3 separate regions of the Homo sapiens genome follow, and all the other regions are linked to region 1. Evidence: fine-mapped expression QTL. A gene starts in region 1. Each other region holds a variant in brackets. All regions are shown on one strand. Distances are from middle to middle. Region 1 holds the start of RPA1 (replication protein A1). Region 2 overlaps RPA1 (replication protein A1). Region 3 overlaps SMYD4 (SET and MYND domain containing 4).

Evidence for each region. PIP is the estimated chance that this variant, and not a neighbour inherited with it, causes the effect.
Region 2: its variant is the best candidate, but not a certain one, in a credible set for the expression of RPA1 in whole blood (INTERVAL, PIP 0.54).
Region 3: its variant is the best candidate, but not a certain one, in a credible set for the expression of RPA1 in monocytes (TOPMed, PIP 0.52).

Annotation. Positions count from the first base shown.
Region 1 is chr17:1,828,304-1,832,542 of GRCh38, forward strand. It overlaps RPA1 (replication protein A1), which reads left to right and starts at 1,702. Exons shown (of 17, transcript NM_002945.5): 1 at 1,702-1,823. The coding sequence starts at 1,791. SMYD4 (SET and MYND domain containing 4) reads right to left here and starts at 1,599. Exons shown (of 11, transcript NM_052928.3): 1 at 1,423-1,599. RefSeq lists a silencer at 1,451-1,970 and an enhancer at 2,598-3,098.
Region 2 is chr17:1,892,962-1,897,200 of GRCh38, forward strand. It overlaps RPA1 (replication protein A1), which reads left to right. Exons shown (of 17, transcript NM_002945.5): 16 at 2,048-2,134; 17 at 4,110-4,239. The coding sequence ends at 4,214. Among named protein-coding and RNA genes, the nearest start is that of RPA1, 65 kb to the left of the region's middle. The variant G/A (reference allele first, on the strand shown) is at 1,635.
Region 3 is chr17:1,789,183-1,793,421 of GRCh38, forward strand. All of the region lies in intron 5 of SMYD4 (SET and MYND domain containing 4), which reads right to left. Among named protein-coding and RNA genes, the nearest start is that of SERPINF1, 29 kb to the left of the region's middle. The variant C/T (reference allele first, on the strand shown) is at 1,666.

The DNA of each region.
Region 1 (4,239 bases):
TCACGCCATTGCACTCCAGCCTGGGTGACAGAGCAAGACTCTGTCTCGGAAAAAAAAAAAAAAGGAAAATCAAGATTTCATTCAAGGAAGCCTGAAACAATAAAATCAATTCTTGTGGTCTTTTCCTCTAGTTTATATGCTAAGGAAGGATCTATATTTTCTCACAGCAATTCACTCAACATCCTTCCATTCAGAAATATTTACTGAAAGACTACTTTGTCACAGGCACCATGCAGGTGATGGTTATACAAAGACGAAGCAGACTAGATAGCTACCATCTGTGCTCTTAGATCCTCTTTTTTTTTTTTTTGTGAGGCAGAGTCTTGCTCTGTCACCCAGGCTGGAGTGCAGTGGCACCATCTCGGCTCACTGCACCCTCCGCCTCCCAGGTTCAAGCAATTCTCCTGCCTCAGCCTCCGAGTAGCTGGGATTACAGATGCGCGCAACTACGCCCGGCTAATTTTTGTATTTTTAGTAGAGACGGGGTTTCACCATGTTGGCCAGGCTGGTCTCGAACTCCTGACCTCAGATGATCCGCCAGCCTTGGCCTCCCAAAGCGCTGGGATTACAGGCGTGAGCCACCGCGCCCGGCCTGATCCCTCTCTAGTTTCTCTGAGACACATCCCAGATTTTTCTTTCTCACCCACCCCAGCAACTATTCATTTAACAAGGTATTTCCCTCTCTTACATAGTTCAGCGTTCTGATTAAGTCCTCACCATCTCGTCTGGCATTCTTCCTAGAGTGTTATAATTAATGTCCATGCCATTGGCACCACTCCCCACTTTCAATCCAGCCTCCAACACTGAGACAGAAGTCAGTGCTCTGCCCTTAAATTCATCAACGCTACTCCAAGCATACCAGGAAGCCCAGGACAAAACCATCCTTACTTGACCCTTGTCTGACTTTCTAATTCTCAGGTGTCACTTACTCCTCTGCATGCACCCTTGCATACTGAACAACTCATTGCTATCCCCGGCTTGCCAGGCTATTTCAACTCTCCAATGTTTTGGCATAGGCTACTCATGCTTTCCGGACCAACCCTACCCTGGCTTATGGAGTCCACCTGGAAAATTCCCACACGTTCTTCGACTCGGCTCAAATGGCACCTCCTCCGGGACGGCGTCCCTGATTTCCCAGCTGTGATTCCAACACCCTTGGGGCCTGTACCACGTCTACCTGGAGGTGGGGTTACTGACGGCATAAAGTGCCCCCACACACTGTCCTCTTCTCTAAGGACGGGGGCCGGGTCTGATTCCCTTTCGGAGACCCCCCACCCCCACCCCCCACCGCCACGGTGCCAAGCTCAGGGCTTGGAGGCGGGAAGTCAGCCCCGCGTTGCTGGACGAATCGGGTCACTACTGCGACTCTATTTAGCAGCGGAGGTCTCAAGGAACAGCTTTAACCTCCTCTGGGATACCAACCCGTGCACTCGCCAGAGACCGAGGCGAGAACGCCTCGAGAACCGCTCAGACGCGCCCGGAACTGCGCCCTGGTCTCCCTCCCAGCGCCCGCGCAGCTCCTGGCGCGCCCCTTGGCGCCCCGCTCCGCCCCGCACCGCGTCCGGCGTCCCGCGCCAGGCCTCGCTTGGGACCATGGGTGGGTCACGTGGGCCGCGCCTCGGCCAATGCGGCGGCTGCGTAGCGCCCGGGCCCGCCCCTGAGCCGCGCGCACGTCGGGGGCGGGAGCGGTGCGCGCAACTTCTCGGGCCAATAACTGCGCAGCGCGCGGGACCCGGGTGGGGAAGCTGGAGCTGTTGCGGGGTCCGCGGGGAAGTCTTGGCGGTGGAGCCATGGTCGGCCAACTGAGCGAGGGGGCCATTGCGGTGAGGAGGTGCCGGGGGCTGGGCCGGCGGTCCGGGGTGGCTGCGGCCCCGAGCCTCGCGGAGTAGAGAGGGGGAGGGGAGCCCGGGGCGACGGGGGATGAACGCGAGGGGAGGAGATGGCGGGGGGCGGTGGGGACCCGCCGGGCGTCCCTCTAGTGTCATCGCCCCCTCCTCAAAGCATTCTTTCGATCGTCTTTAAAACATGCTCACATTTTTCCTACGTAAGAACAAACTAAATAAACGCTTGCCTTTCTCTGCATCTTCCACCTGCGGACACTTTCTGTCTCTTCTCCTTTCCCCACCCACAGCCAAACTTCTTGTCTGGTTTCAGCCACTTCCTTTCCTCGCCTTTCATCAACTCTTTAACCCACTCCAGTCATCCCTTTGATCGCTGTAGAAAACCCTGGCTGAAGGTACCAGTGGCCTCCAAGTTGCTAAATCCAGCCCTTTTCCGTTTTCAGCTTACCTGAGTTCTCAGCAGCGTTTGCGTTTAAGCCCTGCTTGCTTCAGGTCACACCCTCTTCCTTGGTTTTTAGTGGCTCAGCTTGGCAGGTCTATCCCCGTCTTATTTGTAAGTCCCTCTTTGTAAATTTTTGTTGAATCAAGGCTCCCTCTAGGCCCTCTTGACTCCCGAGGCAATTTCTTTTTTTTTCTCCAGCCTGGGCGACACTCACTGTCGCCCAGGCTGGAGTGCAGAGGCGCGATCTCGGCTCACTGCAACCTCCGTCTCCCGGGTGCAAGTGAGTCTCCTGTCTCAGCCTCCCGAGTAGCTGGGACTACATGTGTGCGCCACCACACTCGGCTACTTTTTGTGTTTTTATTAGAGACTGGGTTTCATCATGTTGGCCAGGCTGATCTCGAACACCAGACCTCAAGTTATCCGCCCGCCTCGGCCTCCCAAAATGCTGGAATTACAGGCATGAACCACCGCGCCTGGCCCCAAGGCAATTCCATTGCCATCTATTAATATATGTCAGTTGCTCACAAATTTCTTTGTACAGAGCCACCTTTACTCTAAAAGACAAACTTCCGTCATCTGTCTGCTTATTCCATGCTTCAGAGGGTTTTAAGTTCAGTATACGTATCCCAAAGCAAATTCTTTATCTTTCTAAGTCTGGGCCTCTTGATCCCTATCTCCACGGATGGCACCATTATCTATTCAGTTCAGTGCTAACCAGAAATTGAGAAATCATTCCTCCTATATTGTCCATTACCTGGGCATCCAGTCCCTCACGAAGTGAAGTGTATTTTGCCTCTGCGTAGATCTATCAAGCCCACTGGCTTCTCTCCATCCATACTGGCACCGTCTTTTTTTTTGCCTGAGCTGCTGACTTCCACTCAGCATACGTTCCTGCCACCATTCCCATCCACAGCATACTCTCAGCCTACCTCTCCAGTCACCCCCACATTTTTTTTTAAATTTAGATTTCTGGTATATTCCATACTCCTACCTTCTTCCATGGGGCCTTTGAACTTTTTTTTTTTTTTTTGAGCTGGAATCTTGCTCTGTTGCCCAGGCTGGAGGGCAGTGGCGCGATCTCGGCTCACTGCAAGCTCTGCCTCCTGGGTTCACGCCATTCTCCTGTCTCAGCCTCCCGAATAGCTGGGACTACAGGTACCCGCCACCACGCCCGGCTAATTTTTTGTATTTTTTAGTAGAGACGGGGTTTCACCGTGTTAGCCAGGATGGTCTCGATCTCCTGACCTTGTGATTCGCCCGCCTCGGCCTCCCAAAGTGTTGGGGTTACAGGCGTGAGCCACTGTGCCCGGCCTTTTTTTTTTTTTTTTTTTTTTTTTTGAGGCAGAGTCTCACTCTTTCTCCCCATACCCCCCCACTACCGCCCCAGGCTGGAGTGCGGTGGCGCAATCTCGGCTCACTGCAACCTCTGCCTTCTGGGTTCAGGCAGTTCTCGTGCCTCTGCCTCCAGAGTAGCTGGGATTACAGGCATGTACCACCACACCTGCGTAATTTTTTGTATTTTTAGTAGACACGGGGGTTTCACCATGTTGCCCAGGCTGGTCTTGAACTCCCAACCTTAGGTGATCCACCCTCCTCGGCCTCCCAAAGTGCTGGGATTACAGAAGTGAGCCACCGCACCCGGCCCTGAACATTTTTTTCCCTCTGCCCACTGCCTGGGTGGTTCTTCACTCTTCCCCACACTGGCAAACACTATCTTCGTATCTCAGCTCATTTGTGACTTCCCTTACTAGGCTAAATCCCTTTGAGACCCCAATTCCTGTTCATTCACTTATTGAATTATTTATTTTTTTTCTTTTTGAGATGGAGTCTTGCTCTGTTGCCCAGGCTGGAGTGCAGTGGCACGATCTTGACTCACTGCAACCTCCGCCTCCTGGGTTCAAGCAATTCTCCTCCCTCAGCCTCCCAGGTAGCTGAGAATACAGGAGACTGCCATGA
Region 2 (4,239 bases), 65 kb after region 1:
TTCCCCCGATTTCCTCCAAATTGGTTGGAATACTTGTAAAGGCCACAAAGATGAAAGGCTTTGCCATTTGTTCTGGTGTGTTTTTCTTTTTCTTCCTGTCCCCAGTTCTGTCTGTTTGGGCTCTGCCCTGACTCTTTTTTTAAATTGTCCATGAGAGCTCTCAAAATAGTCTCAACAAATCCTGTTACAGAAATAACTAGAATTGACTTTAAAGTGTGATAGTATCTTTTGTCTGTTTTTACCTGGTCTTCAATTTTCGTATCAGATTTTAAGGCCCGAGTAAGCCTTTCAGGATTTTTATGAGCTTATTATATTTGACTGTTTTTTCTGCCGGTGAATGAGGACATATAGAAACTTCCCCGAGGAACCGTGAGATCCTGGAGTTCGCACTCCACGCCCCTCATCTTGGAAGCATAATGGCAGCCGGTGTAATTTTCTCAAGCTTTAACCCATTGTTTTATTTTCATATCTGAAAGTCCATTTGGTTTGGGTTTGGGTTTTGATCAAGTAACCTTTACAGAAAAGAGTTCTGTATAGCAAAGCTGCTTTCACGCCGTGCGTGACTTGCAAAAAACACTAGGTTGGTGTGAACTATTAATTAGTTTTTCTTTTTTTTTGTCAAAGGTCTCAATCAACTCTGTTAATATAGTTATTACACATTTATTTATGCATCTTTATACAAACTATATTCTCTAATTCTTGTCTGTTTACCAGACTTTTTTTTTTTTAATAAACTTAAATTGCATTTGAGGAGTGAGAGAGGGAAAAGGATTGTTTTTAGGCCTTCCCTAGCCTTTGCGCACCTCAACAGTCTTCTCTGCTTGCACACCAAATCAGTAGCTATAAATACAGAGGCTGAAATCACGAATTATATTGAACTTTCTTCTGAGTGTTTTTCCTTTTTTTCTTTTTTTTGAGACAAGGTCTTGCCTCATCACCCATGTTGGAGCGCCGTGGTGTGCGATCATGGCTCACTGCAGCTTCAAACTCTTGGGCTCAGACAGTCCTGCCACCTCAGTCTCCTGAGTAGCTGGGACTACTGGTACACGCCACCATACCTGGCTTAAGTTTTTTTTTTTTTTTTTTTGGTAGAGATGGGGTTTTGCTATGTTCCCCAGGCTATTCTTGAACTCCTGGCCTCAAGCAGTCCTCCCACCTCGGTCTCCCAAAACATTGGGATTATAGTCACGCGCCACCATACCTGACCTCCTAATTTTTTTTTTTTTTGAGAGTCTCGCTCCATAGCCCATGCTGGAGTGCAGTAGTGCAGTCTCAGCTCACTGTAGCCTCCGCCTCTCAGGTCGAAGCAATTCTTCTGCCTCAGCCTCCCTAGTACCTGGGATTACAGGCACCTGCCACTATGCCCAGCTAATTTTTGTGTTTTTAGTAGAGATGGGGTTTCACCGTGTTGGCCAGGCTGGTCTTGAACTCCCAACCTCAAGTGATCCACCCGCTTCCGCTTCCCAAAGCGCTGGGATGACAGGTATGAGCCACCGTGCCCAGCCTTAAAGTCTTAGAAACTTCCTAAGAGCGTTTTTAATTTTTTGTGTCTAGTAAAGCATACATAACCAAATTTGCCTTTGTAACCATTTTTACGTGTACAGTTTAGTGGCGTTAGGTACATTCACATTACT[G/A]TGCCCCTGTCACCACCATCCTTTTCCAGTACTTTTTTAAATAGGCAAATTCATAGAGACAGACGACAGCCTTGTGTTTTCCAAGGATGGAGGGAAGGGGAGAATGGAGACACACTGTTCATGGGTGGCGATTTGAAACTCTGCACATTAAGCAATAGCTCCTTTTCCAAAACCCTCTTCTCCCTGGCCCTGACAACTGCCATTCTACCTTCTATGAATGTGATTAGTGTTTTAATTTTCAATAAGATTCTACTTAAAACAGTTTCATGTAATGTTACCTGTAGATGAGTCATTCCTAAGTAATTTGAAACTACCCAGGAGATGCATTTTCAGAAGTCTTTTTAAAAGTCTTATCAGTATTTGCAAGTTGTCCAGTGGTTTCCATGTGTCAAGTTTTATGTTTGTTTTTGCAGAATGAACAGGCATTTGAAGAAGTTTTCCAGAATGCCAACTTCCGATCTTTCATATTCAGAGTCAGGGTCAAAGTGGAGACCTACAACGTAAGTAAGGGCCTGGGCAGCAGGGTTGGTGGTGGGGAGGTGCTGTTTGTCACCTACGGCAGTGTCGTGACACTCCCTGGCAGGGAGTTACTGTACTCACTGCCAGACCCCGGTGCTGACTTTGCCCAACACAGGTGCTGTTATGATCCCCATTTTCAGATGAGGAAGGAGAGAGAGCTTAAGTGTCTTGTCGAAACAATGGCGGGGGGGTGGGGAATACAATATGGATTTTTTTGTTTGTTTATTTTTTTTATTTTTATTTTTTTTCAGTTAAATCCTAGGATTTTTTCGTCTGTGTTCTGACAAAAAAATTATAACGCATGCAGTAGAGTCATATCTTTGACAAATTTAGATTGTAGAAAAGTATATTAAGTATATGAGCCGGGCGTGGTGGTGTGTGCCTGTGGTCCCAGCTACTTGGGAGACTGAGGCAGCAGTTCAAGGCCAGCCTGGGTAACATAGTGAAACCCCGTTTCTAAGTCAGTCAGTCAGTATATGAAACAAAGGCCACGTGTGGTTAAAACTACCTTGAAAATTCCTGAAATTGCCCATAATACCATATAGTATTTATTTATTTATTTATTTATTTATTTATTTATTTATTTATTTGAGACAGAGTCTCTGTCACCCAGGCTGGAGTGCAGTGGGACGATCTTGGCTCACCACAACCTCCGCCTCCCGGGTTCAAGTGATTCTCCTGCCTTAGCCCCTCGAGTAGCTGGGATTACAGGCGCCCGCCACCATGCCCGGCTAATTTTTGTATTTTTAGTAGAGACGGAGTTTTCACCATGTTGGCCAGGCTGGTCTCGAACTCCTGACCTCAGATGATCCACCCGCCTCAGCCTCCCAAAGTGCCAGGATTACAGGCATGAGCCACCGCGCCCAGCTTAGTTATAGTTATAATCAAACAGTATTGAGCATGGTCTGCCAGGTAACTGTTCTACATCCTTTACGTGGAACATCTCACTTGAGCCTAGTAACCCTATATGTAGAAACTGTGGTTACCCTATTTTGCCACTGAAGGAATTACATACAGAGAGACACGGGCATTCAGAGAACAAGTCACTTGCCTAAGTTGTATGCTAGCAAGTGGTCGAGCTAACGTCCAACCCAGGCAGCCTGACTTCAGAGCTTTGCTTTTGATCATGCTTACGAGTATCACGGGATTTAGTACCGACCAAGCACACAGCAGTGTGACAGCCCCGAGCTCGCCTGTGCAGCCTTCCTGGGTATCACTCCGTTCTGCCCGGAAAGGCACCATTCAGGCCGTGAGTGTAAACGTACGAGTGGGCAGGGGGAGTGGTAGAAACGCCCCTGCTGATTGCAGGGTTTACTCACGTATTTACCTTAACGCCCGTTCTTCTGCGACTACTATAAACATTAAATGAGATAGGGGATCAGATGTCACCGTGAAACAATGTCAGGGAGTGGGGTGGGGCTGGGGGGGATTTTTGGGGCCATTCAGCCCCATCGTGTCTGGACAGGGAAGGTGAAGTGAAGAGAGGCTGCCTCCCCAGAGCTGAGACAGGACAGACTCGGTCCTCTCCCTCTGCTGCAGGTGCTCTTCCTTTCACCACTCAGCTTTTCTTGAAATGAAAGTTTGAAAGTTTAGCTTTCAGAACTAGCTGTGTGGCTTTGTGCAAGTCACATGTCCTCTCTGGGCTGTATCCCCTGCAGTAGGGAGAATAAATGAAACTAGAGAAACCCTCTAAAGTCCATCTCACTAGGATTCTAGGCTTCTGGGTGTTTGGGAGCTTGGGTAAAGAATCAGAAGGGCCTGTGCTGGAGAAAGGACCTGTTCACTCGCCCAGCCCCAGACATTCAGGAGGAGGCTGTCACTCACTGGAATGACTGAACTCTGAACCCGTGCGTCTGTTCCCTCCCGCTGGGCTCACTGAAACCACTGAAGCAAAAGGGGTTTCACTGCTCCACACCACACTTTCACTGCTCACAAACTACTTCTCCCTTTTTGAAGGACGAGTCTCGAATTAAGGCCACTGTGATGGACGTGAAGCCCGTGGACTACAGAGAGTATGGCCGAAGGCTGGTCATGAGCATCAGGAGAAGTGCATTGATGTGAGAGGAGCAGTGCCAATCGGGCAGAA
Region 3 (4,239 bases), 39 kb before region 1:
TTCGAGAGTAGCCTGGCCAAAATGGCAAAACCCTGTCTCTACTAAAAACACAAAAATTAGCTGGGCATGGTGGCATGCGCCTGTAGTCCCAGCTACTCGGGAGGCGAGGTACGAGAATTGCTTGAATCCAGGAGGAGGAGGTTGCAGTGAGCCCAGATCACACTGCTGCACTCCAGCCTGGGTGACAGAGCAAAACTGTCTCGCAAAACAAAAAAAACAAATTCACCAAAGAAATAGTCTAGGTACAAATGTAATGGATAAAGAAAATATTATGAACCATTATGTGAAAATGTTTTATAGGCCAGGTGCAGAGGCTCACGCCTGTAATCCCAGCACTTTGGGAGGCCAAGGCGGGCAGATCACTTGAGGTCAGGAGTTCAACACCAGCTTGGCCAACATGGTGAACCCTCGTCTCTACCAAAAATATAAAAACTTAGCTGAGCGTGGTGGCGTGCACCAGTAATCCCTGCTACTCGGGAGGCTGAAGCAGGAGAATCGCTTGAAACTGGGAGGTGGAGGTTGCAGTGAGCCGAGATCGCACCACTGCACTCCAGCCTGGGTGAAAGAGCGAGACTCTGTCTCAAAAAAAAAAAAAAAGTTTTATAAAGGAAAACACTGAATATAGGAATAATGTTGTCAATTTTGTTGTCAATTTTACTATCTGTTGCTAAGGAGAACAAGAATAGAACAAGTAAATACATTTTGCAGGGAATCCAAATGACTCAATTCTAGTTAATAATTCTACAAATTGTATTAAAATCTTTCATCAGAGCTTCTCCTAAGTGCTTCGCTGATTTTTGTTTCTTCTTCTCCCCCTTGTCCGGTGCCCACCTTCTGGTATATGTGCTAATGAGCAGTGAAAATGCTAAAAGGCAGGTGGCAGGAAGGAGCCGTCCAGGGCATGAACAATTTGTCGTCTGAATAATCAGCCTCTGCATAATTAAAAGTGGACTTGCATTGCCAACTACTGATAACTGGCAATCTATATTAGAACCATTGCTAAAATTTTCCAGAAAAGAATGATCACACTACAGTGAGTAATGTCAGCTTTGTGAATTATTTATAGATTACCCTCTGACAGAAGTAGGCCCAGGAACCGTGTGGGTATTTATGTCAGAGTTGAATAGCTCTCTAATTATTTCTAAAAAATTAAGTATTGATTTTTAAAAATTACTCAGTATTGTGCATTAATCATCTATTAGTAGAGATAATAGAAAGTGAGAATATGTATGTAGTTCCTCAACCAAATTTAATCTGTGACATTTTGTATTAAAATAAAGAGGGAGTGATTCTATACCAAAACAGTACCTTGCTAATATCCCTAGTGCATTTCTTTTTATTTATTTATTTTTCAGATGTAGTCTCACTCTGTCGCCTAGGCTGGAATGCAGTGGCATGATCTCATCTCACTGCAACCTCCGCCTCCTGGGTTCAAGCGATTCTCCTGCCTCAGCCTCCTGAGTAGCTGGGATTACAGGCGCCCATCACCACACTCAGCTCATTTTTGTATTTTTAGTAGAAGACAGGTTTCAGCATGTTAGTCAGGCTAGTCTCGAACTTCTGACCTCGTGATCCACCCACCTTGGCCTCCCAAAGTGCTGGCTAAGCCATGCCCATCCCTGGTGCATTTAAACTGGGATTCAAGTAAAGAAAAAAGATTCATGC[C/T]GGGCGCGGTGGCTCACGCCTGTAATCCCAGCACTTTGGGAGGCCCAGGCGGGTGGATCACGAGGTCAGGAGATCGAGACCTTCCTGGCTAACACGGCGAAACCCCGTCTCTACTAAAAATACAAAAAAATTAGCCGGGCATGGTGGTGGGCGCCTGTAGTCCCAGCTACTCGGGAGGCTGAGGCAGGAGAACGGAGTGAACCCGGGAGGTGGAGCTTGCAGTGAGCCGAGATCGCGCCACTGCACTCCAGCCTGGGCTGGCCCGTCTCAAAAAAAAAAAAAAAAAAAAAAGATAGATTCCTTCAATGCTGAAGAGTGAAAGCAATGGGCAGTGAATTGATGGGAAGTGACAGGACACAGAACCCCAATAAAATCTTGTTATGACAGGAATCCGGATAGATCATAAATATGCCATTCCCACTGAGACAGAACCACACGTGTCACGGTCTAGAAAATCATCAGTGGCCAGTTCTGTCCCTTGAGATAAGCCCTAGTGAGAGGTTTCTGGGGAACTTTGATTAAACAGGATTTATGCAAAGATAATAACATACATTTTTATAGGTTTTTGTCAAAGTCTATCCTAGTTAACACTTTAATCCTTTGCCTGTACTACTAATGAAACAGCTGCTAATGAAATTCAATGAGAACACTAAATTGAGAGGGATTGGAACCCCAAAGAAATAATAAAAAGGGATATAACAAGATTAGAAATATGAGCAGACTAAAAGAAAATGAGATGAAATTTAACAATGAAAGTGAACCTTGCTGGTGGGCGCGTCAGTGGAACTTTCCTGGAGGGCAATTTTGCAAGCTGTATCAAGTGCCTTAAAAATGTTCATAGAAAAGTACTCTTATCATTTGAATTATCTTTATTATTAAAAAAACTAACTGAGGCTGGGCGCAGTGGCTCACGCCTGTAATCCCAGCACTTTGGGAGGCAGAGGTGGGAGGATCGCTTGAGCCCAGGAGTTTGAGGTTACAGTGAGCTACGATCGCCCCACTGCACTCCAGCCTAAGTGACAGAGTGAGACCCTGTCTCAAAAACAAACAAAAAACCACTAATTGAAATTACAAAAGGAATACGTGGTAGTCAGAAAAAAATTTAAAAATTGAACATTACAGAGAAAATGACAGTTGCTTGTAATGCCATCAGGCAGATATAACATGTTATCTTTAAATCCTAACCTAAAATACATTTTTTTTTTTTTTGAGACGGGGTCTCGCTCTGTCGCCCAGGCTGGAGTGAGTGCAGGGGCGCGATCGCGGCTCAGTGCAAGCTCCGCCTCCTGGGTTCACACCATTCTCCTGCCTCAGCCTCCAGAGTAGCTGGGACTACAGGCGCCCGCAACCACGCCCGGCTAATTTTTTGTATTTTTAGTAGAGACGGGGTTTCACGTTAGCCAGGATGGTCTCGATCTCCTGACCTCGTGATCCTCCCACCTCGGCCTCCTCAAGTGCTGAGATTACAGGCTTGAGCCACCACGCCTGGCCTAAAATGCATTTTAGAATTAAAAATACAGGTCGGGCACGGTGGCTCACCCCTGTAATCCCAGCACTTTGGGAGGCCAAGGTGGGCGGATCACGAGGTCAGGAGATGGAGACCACCTTGCTAACACGGTGAAACCCTGTCTCTACTAAACATACAAAAGTTAGCCCGGTGTGGTGCACACCTGAGCCCAGCTACTTGGGTGCCTGAGGAGGGAGGATCAGTTGAACCCTGGAGGTCGAGGCTTCAGTGAGCTGAGATCACGCCGCTGCACTCCAGCCTGGGCAACAGACAGAGGCCCTGTCTCAAAAAACAAAAACAAAACCAGTAAAACAACTCTGCTGCCGTGACAGGCCAACAAAGGTATCTGGTTTTAATTACTAGAGAGGTTAGAGAGTGACCGTTTTTACTTATCACTATCTACTTCGATACAGTGCTTGCTCACGTGTGCTTTCAACAGCTGTACTGAGATAGAATCCATCTACCGTAAAATTCACTTAAGTGTACGATTCAGTGCTTTTTTGGGGGGAAATTTATAAGATTGGGCAAACAGTACCACAACCCGGCTTTAGATTTTCATCATTATGCATGTTTTTATTTTTATCTTGCTATTTTTTAGACAGGGTCTCACTCTGTTGCAATGGGGTGATCTCAGCTCACGGCGGCCTCGACCTCCTGGGCCCGAGCCGCTGTCCCACCTCAGACTCCCGGGTAGCTGAGACCACAAGCGCGCACCACCACACTCAGCTAATTTTTGTATTTTTGTAGACACAGAGTTTAGCCATGTTGCCCCGGGTGGTCTCTAACTCGTGGGCTCAAGTAATCCTCCTGCCTCAGCCTTCCAAAGTGCTGGGATTATAGGTGTGAGCCACTGTGCCTGGCCGCTATGCATATTTTTAAAAGTTGATTTTAAGAGCTGTATAGTTGCTAGAGATATTCCCTCATTTTGTCCATTTACATCTAATTTTTGTTTATGAGGTTTTTTTGGGGGGATTGTTAAAACAATGACAATTTCACTTGTTCACAATTCTGTACCCCGGCAGTTTTGGCTCAGCTGAGTATTTTTTTTTTTTCTGCTGGTTTTGCCT